Linked DNA regions of Homo sapiens: region 2 is linked to region 1. The links come from fine-mapping of genetic effects on gene expression. A gene starts in region 1. The other region holds a variant in brackets. All regions are shown on one strand. Distances are from middle to middle.

Region 1 (5,374 bases):
ACAGAAAATAACAAGTGTTGGTGAAGATGTTGAGAAATTAGCACTTTGTGCACTGCTGATGGACACATAAAATGGTGCAGTCACTGTGAAACACAGTAAAGTAGTTCCTCAAAAAATTAAACAGAATTGCCATAGGATCACCCAGCAATTCCACTTCTGAGTGTATACCCAAAACAATTAAAAACAGGAACTCAAACAGATATTTGTACATTCATGCTCAAAGCAGCATTAGTCACAACAGCCAAAAGCAATCCAAGTGTCCATCAAGGAATGAATGGATAAACAGAATGTGGCATATACATAGAATATTAGAATAGATTATTCCGCCATAAAAAAGAAAATTCTAACACATACAACAACATGGGTGAAACTTAAAGGCATTATGCTAAGTGAAATAAGCCAGACACAACAAGACAAATACTGTTATGATTCCATTTATAATACCTAGAGGTACCCAAAGTAGTCAAATTCACTCAAACAGAAAGTAGAATGGTGATTGCCAGGCACTGGGGGGAGAGGCAATGGGGAATGTACTTAATGCCACTGAACTGTATACTTAAAAGTGGTTACAATGGTAAATTTTATTTTATATACATTTTAATTCATTCACTGCCCCACCCCACCCCCCCCCCCAAAAAATGTAAAATTTAGAGCCAGACTCTCTGGGTTCAAACTCCACCTCTAGGTTATCTTATGCAAATTATTAAACCTCTCTTGTGCTCAGTTTCCCCTCTGCAAGATGGAAATAAGAACAGCAGTAATTACCTTATATCACAGAGTTGAGGGAATTAAATGAGTTCATACTTGTAAAGTACTTAGAACATAGTAAATGCTCAAGAGGTGTTAGTGATTTTTATTCTTTGGTGAGGGGGTGGGAGGTGTGGTTTCCAAAGGTTATAATTTTCATGACATTCTACACCCAACCCGCCCCCTTCCTCCCACCTGCTTCTTTCTTTCCCTTCAGCAGAAGCCTGGCCTAGATTTGGGGAGGCCCTTGCCTGCCCCAGAGGAGATTGGGAAGGCTCCAGGCAGTGGCAAGGGGCCAGCCAGCAGGGCAGCCCCAGCTCAATTTCAGCCCAGCTGTCCAGGTCAGGGACACCCAGCTGGGCCACCTCCAGAGCCACACCAGGCCCTGAGCTATTTCTGGAGGCCTCCCAGACGCTGGTGCCCTGGCCTGCCCAGGAGTCAGCCTTGCTCAGGGTGGCCTTGCACTAACATTAGGAAGGGAGAAGGGAGTAGGCTGTGGAATGGGTGTGGATGTGGACATCTAGGCCCACTGATACCAAGTTGATCTTCTAGGCCTAGGTCTGCACTTGAGGTTGCAAAATGGGGATGAAGGATTTTGCAGTGAGGACAGAATGGAAGATAACACATGCAAGGTCTTGGGGAAGGGCCTGGCACGCAGGATTAGAAAGGGGAGGGGGAGGCAGATCCACAGCCAAGCCCACTTCCTATCCTAGACTGCCCTCTGCCCAGGCCTGAGTGCACCATCATGACTTCTTAGCTCAGCCCAGAGACTGAAGAAACTTACTCAATGTCACAGAGCAACTCAGGGACAGGGCAGTGGTTTCATGATTTATAAATATGCATATATATACACATATATACATATATACACACATACATATATATACATATATGTGTGTGTGTATATATGTGTGTGTGTATATATATATATAGAGAGAGAGAGAGAGAGAGAGAGAGAGAGAGAGAGATGGGAGGACTGCACTTCATGAAGGCTGTGTGAGTTAACCTCCTGCCTGCAGAACACACAAATGGTCCATGAACGTTAGTTTCAGTCTTGATTACTGAGGTTTTGGGCATCCCTAAATTTTGCACTGGCTCAATTGCCTCAGCCCCTGCCTTGCATCACAGTGGGAGAAGATGATACATTTGCTAATAAGTAAAAAAACCAAAACATGCAAGAACCAGAGCAGGGCTTATGAAGTCAATAAATAATATTTGTTGAAAGAATAAAAGAAAGCCTTGTTTTCTTTCTGAGTCCTCGGAGATCCTGTCCCCCAAAGCCAGGGGCAGGCTCCAGAGGAGAGAGGATATGTAACTCCCTTATGAAGAGATTGAAGACTCTCAAAATGCATGATTCTGTGTGTCAAGGATTCTAAGATTGAAGCCAGAGGGACTAGGAGCTAACCACTGCATTGTCTGACTGTGACTTCGAAAAGGGGCTTAACTTCTTAGAACCTCCGTTTCCCCACCTACAAAAGGAGACTGACAATAGCAACCTAGGGGGCAGGGGGTGTCCCCAGGAGACACAGCAGGGTCTGGCCTAGGTCAGCTGCTCCACCTGGGGGGATTCCGGCCCCACTCCCAATTCCAAAGTCTCTGGTGACTAGTGGCTTTGGTTTAGGGACTGGCTCTATTCCCTTCCCCAAACTGGGGATGATTCCCAAGAGGCCAGCAGCGGCTCTGGGGGCTGGAGAATCTGCTGCCCCTGCATCCAGCCCAGAAATGTCAGTCCCGTCCGATCCCCAAAGAGTGGTCCTCTGTCCCCGTAGACAGAAAGGCGCCAAATGAGCCGAGTCCAACCCCGGACTGCGGAGAAGGAAAGACAGACGCCCAAAGGGGGTATCCCGAGGACAGTGTGGGGCGCGGGGATATGTGATCCAGCCAGGGGTCTACAGGTCCCTGCCGATAAAACGCTGGGAAAATGACTACCAGTTGCCCGTCTGGGCCTCTCAAGGCAAGTCCAGATGTGACTAGACTAGGGGGCTGCGAGGTGGGGCAGAAAGACTTGAACTGGATTCTCCGCCAGAGCTCGCCGGGCCGGGACACTTGCCTCTCTGAGCCTCAGAGTCCTCATCTGTGAAATGACACGCAGGTACGACGCGGGGAGAAAGCAGACAGCAGACGCTCGGGGAACGGGGCCCCCAGACCCGGGGTCGCACCCGGACCCACCCGCGCCCTCACCTGGAGCCCGCGCTAGGCGTGTCCCGGCTCCTCTCGCGCAGGCTTTGGAGAGGCTGACAGCTCGGACCCGGGCCGGTAGTGGCCGCTCCCAACGACGCCCAGGAGGCCCCAGCCCCGCGTGGGCACCTTTGGGGTCCCCTTTGGAGCTGCCCTCCGCGGTCGAGCTGAGCGGGTGGCCCTCACTGTCGAAGGCCCCCACCGCAGGGAAAGTCCCTGGGGCGCCGTGGAAGGGGAAGTGAGCACGCCGCCCCCCTTCACACCAGAATGGTTCGCCCCGGACTTCCTGATTGGTTCCTCGCTTCCGTTCGAACGGCGCGCCGCCAGGGTTGCCAGGCGACCGCTTAGCTTCCCCCGCCCGAAGGAGAGGCGCTGCTCAGCAGCTCCGCCCGCTCCTCCCAGCCGGCCCCACCTTCTTCCTGCCGCCGCTTCAGCCCCGGCGCCTGGTTCTTTCCCTTCCTCCTCCTCCCTCCCGCGGCCAGCTGGGACTTCCTCTAGGACCCCAGCTGGAAGAGCTCCAGTTAGAGGGCCCTGGCTGGTTCCTAGTCCTGACTTTGACGCTAACTCCCTATGTGACCCGGTGCAAGCCCCTTCCTTTCTCTGTTCTCCTAACTGCATGATGATGAGTGAGTTAATTTTAAAATGTGCATACCCAGCAGTCCCGAAATTTACAAAGGAAATGACCAAAGATATGAGCAAAGATTAATATTGCTCAGCCTTATTCATCATAGCAAAATAATGGAAACAACTTCAATGCCTCTTGAAAGGGATTGGTTATATAATTCCATCCTGTGGAGGAGCTAACTTAATTGAGCTTTTTGCATGCCGGGTAGCTTTACAGAACAAGTCTTGTCAAGGCTTATGACATAACCCTCTAAAAGTACTTTTAATTATTAACACTTTATTTATTTCTTTATCTTTTTCTTTTCTTTTTTTTTTTTTTTTTTTGAGATGGAGTCTCACTCTGTCGCCCAGGCTGGAGTGCAGTGGCAGGATCTCAGCTCACAGCAGCCTCAATCTCCTGGGGTCAAGCAATCTTCCCACCTCAGCCTCCCAAGTAGCTGGGACTACAGGTGTGCACCACCACACCCGGTATTTTCTGTATTTTTTGTAGGGATGGGGTTTTGCCATGTTGCCCAGACTGATCTTAAACTCCTGAGCTCTAGCAATTCTACCAACTCAGCCTCCCAAAGTACTAGGATTACAGGCATGAGCCACGCCACCTAGCCTAATTTTTCCCACTTTCTGATGAGGAATATTATGCAGCCATTAAAAGTGAAGTAGCTACCAGGAGCAGTGGCTCACACCTGTAATCCCAGCACTTTGGGAGGCTGAGGCGACCAGATCACCTGAAGTCAGGAGTTCAAGACCAGCCTGGCCAACGTGGTGAAACCTCGTCTCTACTAAAAATACAAAAATTAGCCAGGCGTGGTGCCACATGCCTGTAATCCCAGCTACTCAGGAGGCTGAGGCAGGAGAATAGATTGAACCTGGGATGTGGGGGATGCAGTAAGCTGAGATCATGCCACTGCACCCCAACCTGGGCAAGAGATCATCTCAAAAAGATAAAAATAAAAGTGAAGTAGCTAGAAGATATTTAAAGATAGGGGGAAATGCTAAGTATTAAACATTGGTTTATTTATGTTTTTTAGAGACAGGGTCTAGCTCTGTTGCCCAGGGTGGAGTGCAGTGGTGCAATCATAGCTCACTGTAACCTAGGTTGAAGCAATCCTCACACCTCAGCCTCCAGAGTAACTAAGACTACAGGCCCGCATCACCATGTCAAGCTACGGGTCTCGCTATGTTGCCCCAGGCCAGTCTAGAACTCCTGGCCTCAAGTGATCCTCCTGCTTTGGCCTCCTGAATTTCTAGGATTACAGGCATAAGCCAATGCACCCCTCCCAAATTTTTTTGAAGTACAGTATGCTTCAAAACACTATGTACAGCATAAATATGTATTAAATACATATGTATATGTGTATAATCATCTATAATCACAGCAGTTAATTTCTTCTTTGTGTTTTTGTGAATTTTCCAAATTTCCAATACTTGAACATGTCAAAAAAGTATATTTTTAGGGGGATTAGAATGAATTAACTCTAAGGGCCTTTAAGGTGAGGAAATTTTATAGCAGTCAGTCTGAATTGCTCAATTTGGAACCAGCTTCTCTGTTTCATTCCAGCTGGTGTCTTTTATTCTTTGTTTGGATTGCCAATAATTGAGAACTTACTGCGTAAACCCCTGGGTGGGCAGGGGAGGGAGCTAATAATATATCAATAGCTAATAATGATTGTACACTCTGGCATGGACACCAACCAAATCAGAGCCAACCACTGTCATAAACAGGGAGTCTGCTGTATCCGTGAGGACCAGCTAAATATCAATCCTGGCCCTGTGCCCTCTGCTACATTGTGTTAGGGCTTTATACACATCATCTCATTGGACTTCA
Region 2 (5,374 bases), 22 kb before region 1:
AGTTCCTTTGGTTGTCAGCACAGTTCAACTTCTTGTGGTTGCCGGTCTGAGATGCATGTTTCCTTGCCAGCTGGGAGCTGGAGGGCCACTCTCAGTTCCTAGAGGTCACCTTGGGTCCTAGCCTTCTTTCATGTCCCTACTTTCCCCACATCCCACGTCCAATACATCCCCTGTTGGCTCCACATTCGGGGTAGATCCAGAAAGATCCAGAATCCCACACCCCTCAGCCCCCACCGCCTCCACCCCAGTCCAACTCCTTCATCTCCTGCCAGGACTATTACAGTAGCCTCCTCCCTGCAGCCCTGCAGCCCATTCTCCACTTGGTAGCTGGAGATGGGGGAAGGTGTTAAAATGCAAGTCTGATCCTGTCCCACCTCTGCTCAGATTCCTCCCACGGGTTCTCAGAGGAAAAACCAATGTCCTCAGCCAGGTGCAGTGGCTCTCACCTGTAATCCCAACACTTCAGGAGGCTGAGGTGGGCGGATCACCTGACGTCAGGCATTTGAGACCAGCCTGGACAACATGGCAAAACCCCATCTCTACAAAAATATAAAATGGGCGTGGGGGCACGTGCCTGTAGTCCCAGCTACTTGGGAGGCTAAGCCGGGGAATTACTTTAATGCAGGAGGCGGAGGTTGCAGTGAGCCGAGATTGTGTCACTGCACTCCAGCCTGGGTGACAGAGCGAGACTCCATGTCAAAAGAAAAAAATACCAATGTCCTCACCATGATGTATGTGACCCTATACCATCTAGCCTCATTCCACATGGAGCACACCTCCTAGCCCTCTCCCCTCACGTCCTTCACTCCCTCCTTGATGGCCTCCATGCTGTTCCTCAAACACTCCAGGCACATACTGACTCTGTTTCCTCAGCCCAGAACACTCTTCCCTGCAGACACCCCTTACCTCCTTCTGGCCTCTCCTGAAATATCACCGAGCCGGTGACACCTTATCTGACCATCCTGTTTAAAAGCATGAGATCTGCTTCTAATAAAGCTACCCTTACCACGAGGTCCAGCAATTCCACTCCGTGGTAGTTACCCAAGAGAAATGAAAATATGCATCCACACAAAGAGTTGTTCACAAATGTTTATAGTAGCTTTATTTGTAATAGCCAAGAAATGGGAACAACCTGTATGTCCGTCAACAAGTTGGATGAATAAACAAAATACAGTGCATCCACACTGTGGAATACTACTCGTCAGTAAAAAGGAACAAGCTACAGATACACTCAGCAACACGGGCGAATCTCAACCAAGTCCATGATGCTGACTGAGAGAAGCCAGATTCCATTTGCATGAACTCTGGGAAAGACAAAGCTGATCTACAGTGAAAGAAAACTGATCTGTAGTTTCTTCGGGTGGGAGCGGGTGGGAGTCAGGGGCTGACTGTGGGGGGCGTGAAGGAACATGGTGGGATGATACAGGAATTCTAGCACTTGTCTGTAGTGCCATACAACTGTCAAAATGCATCCAACTGTACACCTAAAATGGGCCAATTTTATTGTTTATCAATTCAACCTCAATAAAAAAAGGAAAAAAAATCTCTAGTTCCCCATCCTTCCCTGCTTCATTTTTCTCCTTAGCATTTTCACTCTGGCAAGTATTGTCTGTGTCCCCTCTGGAATGTCAGCTCCTCGAGGGCAGGGATTTTTATCTGTTTTGTTTTCTGTTGCATCTTCAGTTCCTAGAAGAGTGTTTGGCACACAGTAGGTGCTCAATGGATATTGATGAATGAAGGAATGAATTCAGTCCCTGCAGGCTGATTCATTGACAGGGATGGCTGTTTTGGAGTGTCCATACACCCACCTGGAGGCTGCAGAACAAAGGCGAGATGGGAGGGCCTGTGAGACTGTGGGCAGTGGCATCATTCCATCTGAGGCCGTGTCATTGCTCAGGCATTTGGACGACGCCATTCCCGGGGCGGTGTCATGCCCACCAACCACCTTGGCGGGTGGCCCAGCCCAGAACCTGATGTGCGTTAGCTGGGATTTCCTTTGGGTGCTGTGTGTGTGGAAACCCAAATATGACCGTAGAGGGTGGAGCCACAAAACCAAGCTGGGCAGAGCCCACAGTGTGGCATGAGGTTGCCCGGGGGCGGTAGCTGGCTGGGCCTGCAGGCTTGCTTGTCCGTCTCTGTTTCAGGTTTCTTGTCTACTTTCACTTTACTTTAAATGTATTTTTATTTTTTCTGCACAGATAACACATTCACATGATTCAAAATTCAAAAGGTGTGCAAAGTAGTGAGTCTTGCCTCCCACCCTTGAGCCCAACCCTCGGGTTCCCCTCCCCAGGGGCAGCCAGCATGCAGGGTTCCCAGGATAATTCTCCAGGGTTCTGTGCCAGTACAAGAGTACATGGACATGTGTTCCTGCTTCCACAAGCAGCAGCACACTGTGGGTATCATGCCACAACTTGTTTTGTTCACTGACCTGTGTTGTGTATCTTGTGATTCCACATCAGGTGTTTGCAGGACATCTTTTGAGGGCTGCCTAGGATTCCCTTGC[G/A]TACCTGGGCCTGAGTTTCTTTAGCCATTTCTCAAATAATTTCCAATTATTTGCTATTGTAAGCAATGATATAATAAATAACTTAAATGCTTGGTATATGGGGGTAATTTTACATGTAAGTTGTTACTTGCCCACATTTAAACGGTGAGAGAATAACATGCCAAACATTTTTTGCAGCCTCACTAATCAGGAGAACTTGGAAGCTTTGGCCCCACTAAGTCCGAGATCCTGGATTACAGCAGACTGGGCAGGGCCTCTCCATTTACCTCCGTCCCACCCCTGATTTGCCAACAGGAACACTGGAGACACAGACAGGGAGTGACACACCTACCCAGGGACACAACACATGCCAGCGGGGCTTGGACCCCAGAGGGGTGAGTGCCGGGGGCCTCTGCCCTCCCTGGCTGTAACCTCAGTCACATGGCTTCCCGCTTCTGAGACTACGCTGGAGGAAATGGGAACCACGCCCACTTCATCATGATGCCCCCTCCCAGGAACGAACTCCCCTGGAGCAGCTGGCTCTGTACTGGACATACAGTTGGTGCTTGGGGCTTGGTAGGTGTTCATTAGCTAGTTTATATATACATTATTCTTCCAATGGTTTAGATGTGTAAATATTGACAACAAATTACCTTTTTTTTGAGACGGAGTCTTGCTCTATTGCCCAGGCTGGAGAGCAGTGGCACAATCTCGGCTCAGTGCAACCTCAGCTTCTGGGCTCAAGCGATTCTCCTGCCTCAGCCTCCCGAGTAGCTGGGACTACAGGTGCCCGCCACCATGCCTGGTGAATTTTTGGATTTTTAGTAGTGACGGGGTTTCACCATGTTGGCCAGGCTGGTCTTGAGCTCCTGACCTCATGATCCACCCACCTGGGCCTCCCAAAATGCTGGGATTACAGGTGTAAGCCACTGTGCCCAGCCTACAGATTACATTTTTTAAAACCTGTGCAATGTATACAATGCTAGTCCTGATAGTGCCCCAGTGCCCAGGATTAAGGGATTTGTCCTATTAGCAGACACTGAGGTGGGGGTGGCCCAGCAATCCACACAGTATAGAAGTAGCAAAGGTGGGATTTGAACCCAGGCCACCTGGCTCCAGGTGCTCATAGTCATCACATCTTATCAGAGACCCGGGGCACTGGTGGTTAAGGGAGGGCACTGTTTGATAGTGAGACCACACACACACACACACACACACACAAACACAAACACACACACGTGCACGCGGTGACAGGACAGGGCTGGGCAAGACTTGGGCCTGAATCATAACTGCAACGTAACCTCAGTGAGGCAGTTGTCATCTCTGAGCCTCAGTGTCCTCACCAGTAAAGTAGCTACTGAGCAGGGGTGAAATTAGAAACAAACCAAGAAAAAGATTTGCAAGCTGCAAGGGCTGCAGGCCTGTAGAGGATGAAGGGATTTATCCTGCCGGTGGACACTGAGGGAGGAGGGACAATAGGTGGGGAGGGAGGTCTGGGACATCCAGCATGCCCTGTTTGCCCTTAAGAACCTTCCAGGACTGCCTGGCCCAGCTGTCAGGTGGCCTTGATCCCAGCCCGGCACCAGGCTGGCAGGCTCCAGACAGAGCCCCCTGGCTCCAGCTTGGCACCCCAGGGAGGGTAGGGGCCCAAGCTAGGGGCTGAGCTAGGCTATTTTCAAACGCCAGAAGGCCAAAGGGAAGGCCCCAGCTCCCTTCTTCCTACATAGGCCCCCTCCACAGCCTGGAGTACTCCTTTCCTGTCCTAGAACCTCCCTAGAGACCACAAATGCCTCACAGCTCAACTGGAGAAACCAAGGAACAGAAAGGATCGCCCAGCTAGAACTTGAACCCAGACCTCCTAATTTCCAGGAGCTAGTTCTTTCCAGCATTCACTCACTCATTTTCACTCATTTCTTTATTCACAAATGTTTATGGAATGCCTACTCTTCCCCTGAGGCTGAGGACACAGCCTAGAGCAAGGCCAAGTCCCTGCCTGCTGAGCTGCACTCTGGTGAGAGATCCAGAAGAGAAACAGACAATGTGGCCTCTGGTTAATATAAGCCAGGAGGTGATATGTGCTAGGAAGAGAAATAAACCAGGCCAGGGAAGTAGAGACTGCTGGATGCTGACTGCTTAGCTGGAGGGGCAGGGGGGTTGTGGTGGGTTGGTAGGGAAGGCCCCTTTGAAGAGGCAGAGATGGAAATGAAGTGACAGAATGAGTCATCAGAATATCTGGGTAGGGTCGATACTAGTAAAGGCAATGGCAAGTGCAAAGGCCCTGAGGTGGGAATGTGTCCAGGGTGTTCCTGGAACAGGAAGGAGGCAGCATGGCTGCAGCAGAGTAGGTAAAGGGGAGACTGGAGGAGTAACAAGGTCCCCGATCATGAGGGCCTTGTGGAGCAGTTAGGCCTTTCGGTTTTATTTTAGGCTGCCTGGCAAGACAGACCCTCACATTGTTCAAAGGCTCCAGCAGCCCCACACCATCTGGCCCTGGTGCTTCAGGCCCAGCCCCACCCACCTTCTCTGTGTTCCTGGAATCTACTCCTCCCACCACAGGGCCTTTGCACATGCCCTCCATCTAGAATCATTTTCCACTCCTATCTTTCTTCTCCTCGTTGTCTCCTACCTACCCTTCACATCTCAGCTTAAATATCTTTGGCTTCTCAGATCAACCTGGCCAGGTCAGCAATCTCTCCTTCCGGAATCTACTCTCAATGGTCATACAATTATTAGGATGATCAATTAACATCTGTCTACAACCTAGGCTGTGAGCTTCACAAGAGCAGGTGTTTTGGTCCATTTTGTTCACTGCAATATCCTCGGGGTGGGACCAGTAGTTGGTATATAGGAGGCCTCAATAAATATGTGCTGCGTTTGTAAACAAATGAG

Evidence for each region. PIP is the estimated chance that this variant, and not a neighbour inherited with it, causes the effect.
Region 2: its variant is the best candidate, but not a certain one, in a credible set for the expression of FAM110A in T cells (TOPMed, PIP 0.90).

What each region holds. Positions count from the first base shown.
Region 1 is chr20:831,506-836,879 of GRCh38, reverse strand. It overlaps FAM110A (family with sequence similarity 110 member A), which reads right to left and starts at 3,165. Exons shown (of 2, transcript NM_001042353.3): 1 at 2,929-3,165. RefSeq lists an enhancer at 1,149-1,248 and a silencer at 2,765-2,914.
Region 2 is chr20:853,190-858,563 of GRCh38, reverse strand. No RefSeq gene overlaps it. Among named protein-coding and RNA genes, the nearest start is that of FAM110A, 22 kb to the right of the region's middle. RefSeq lists an enhancer at 1,428-2,414. The variant G/A (reference allele first, on the strand shown) is at 2,507.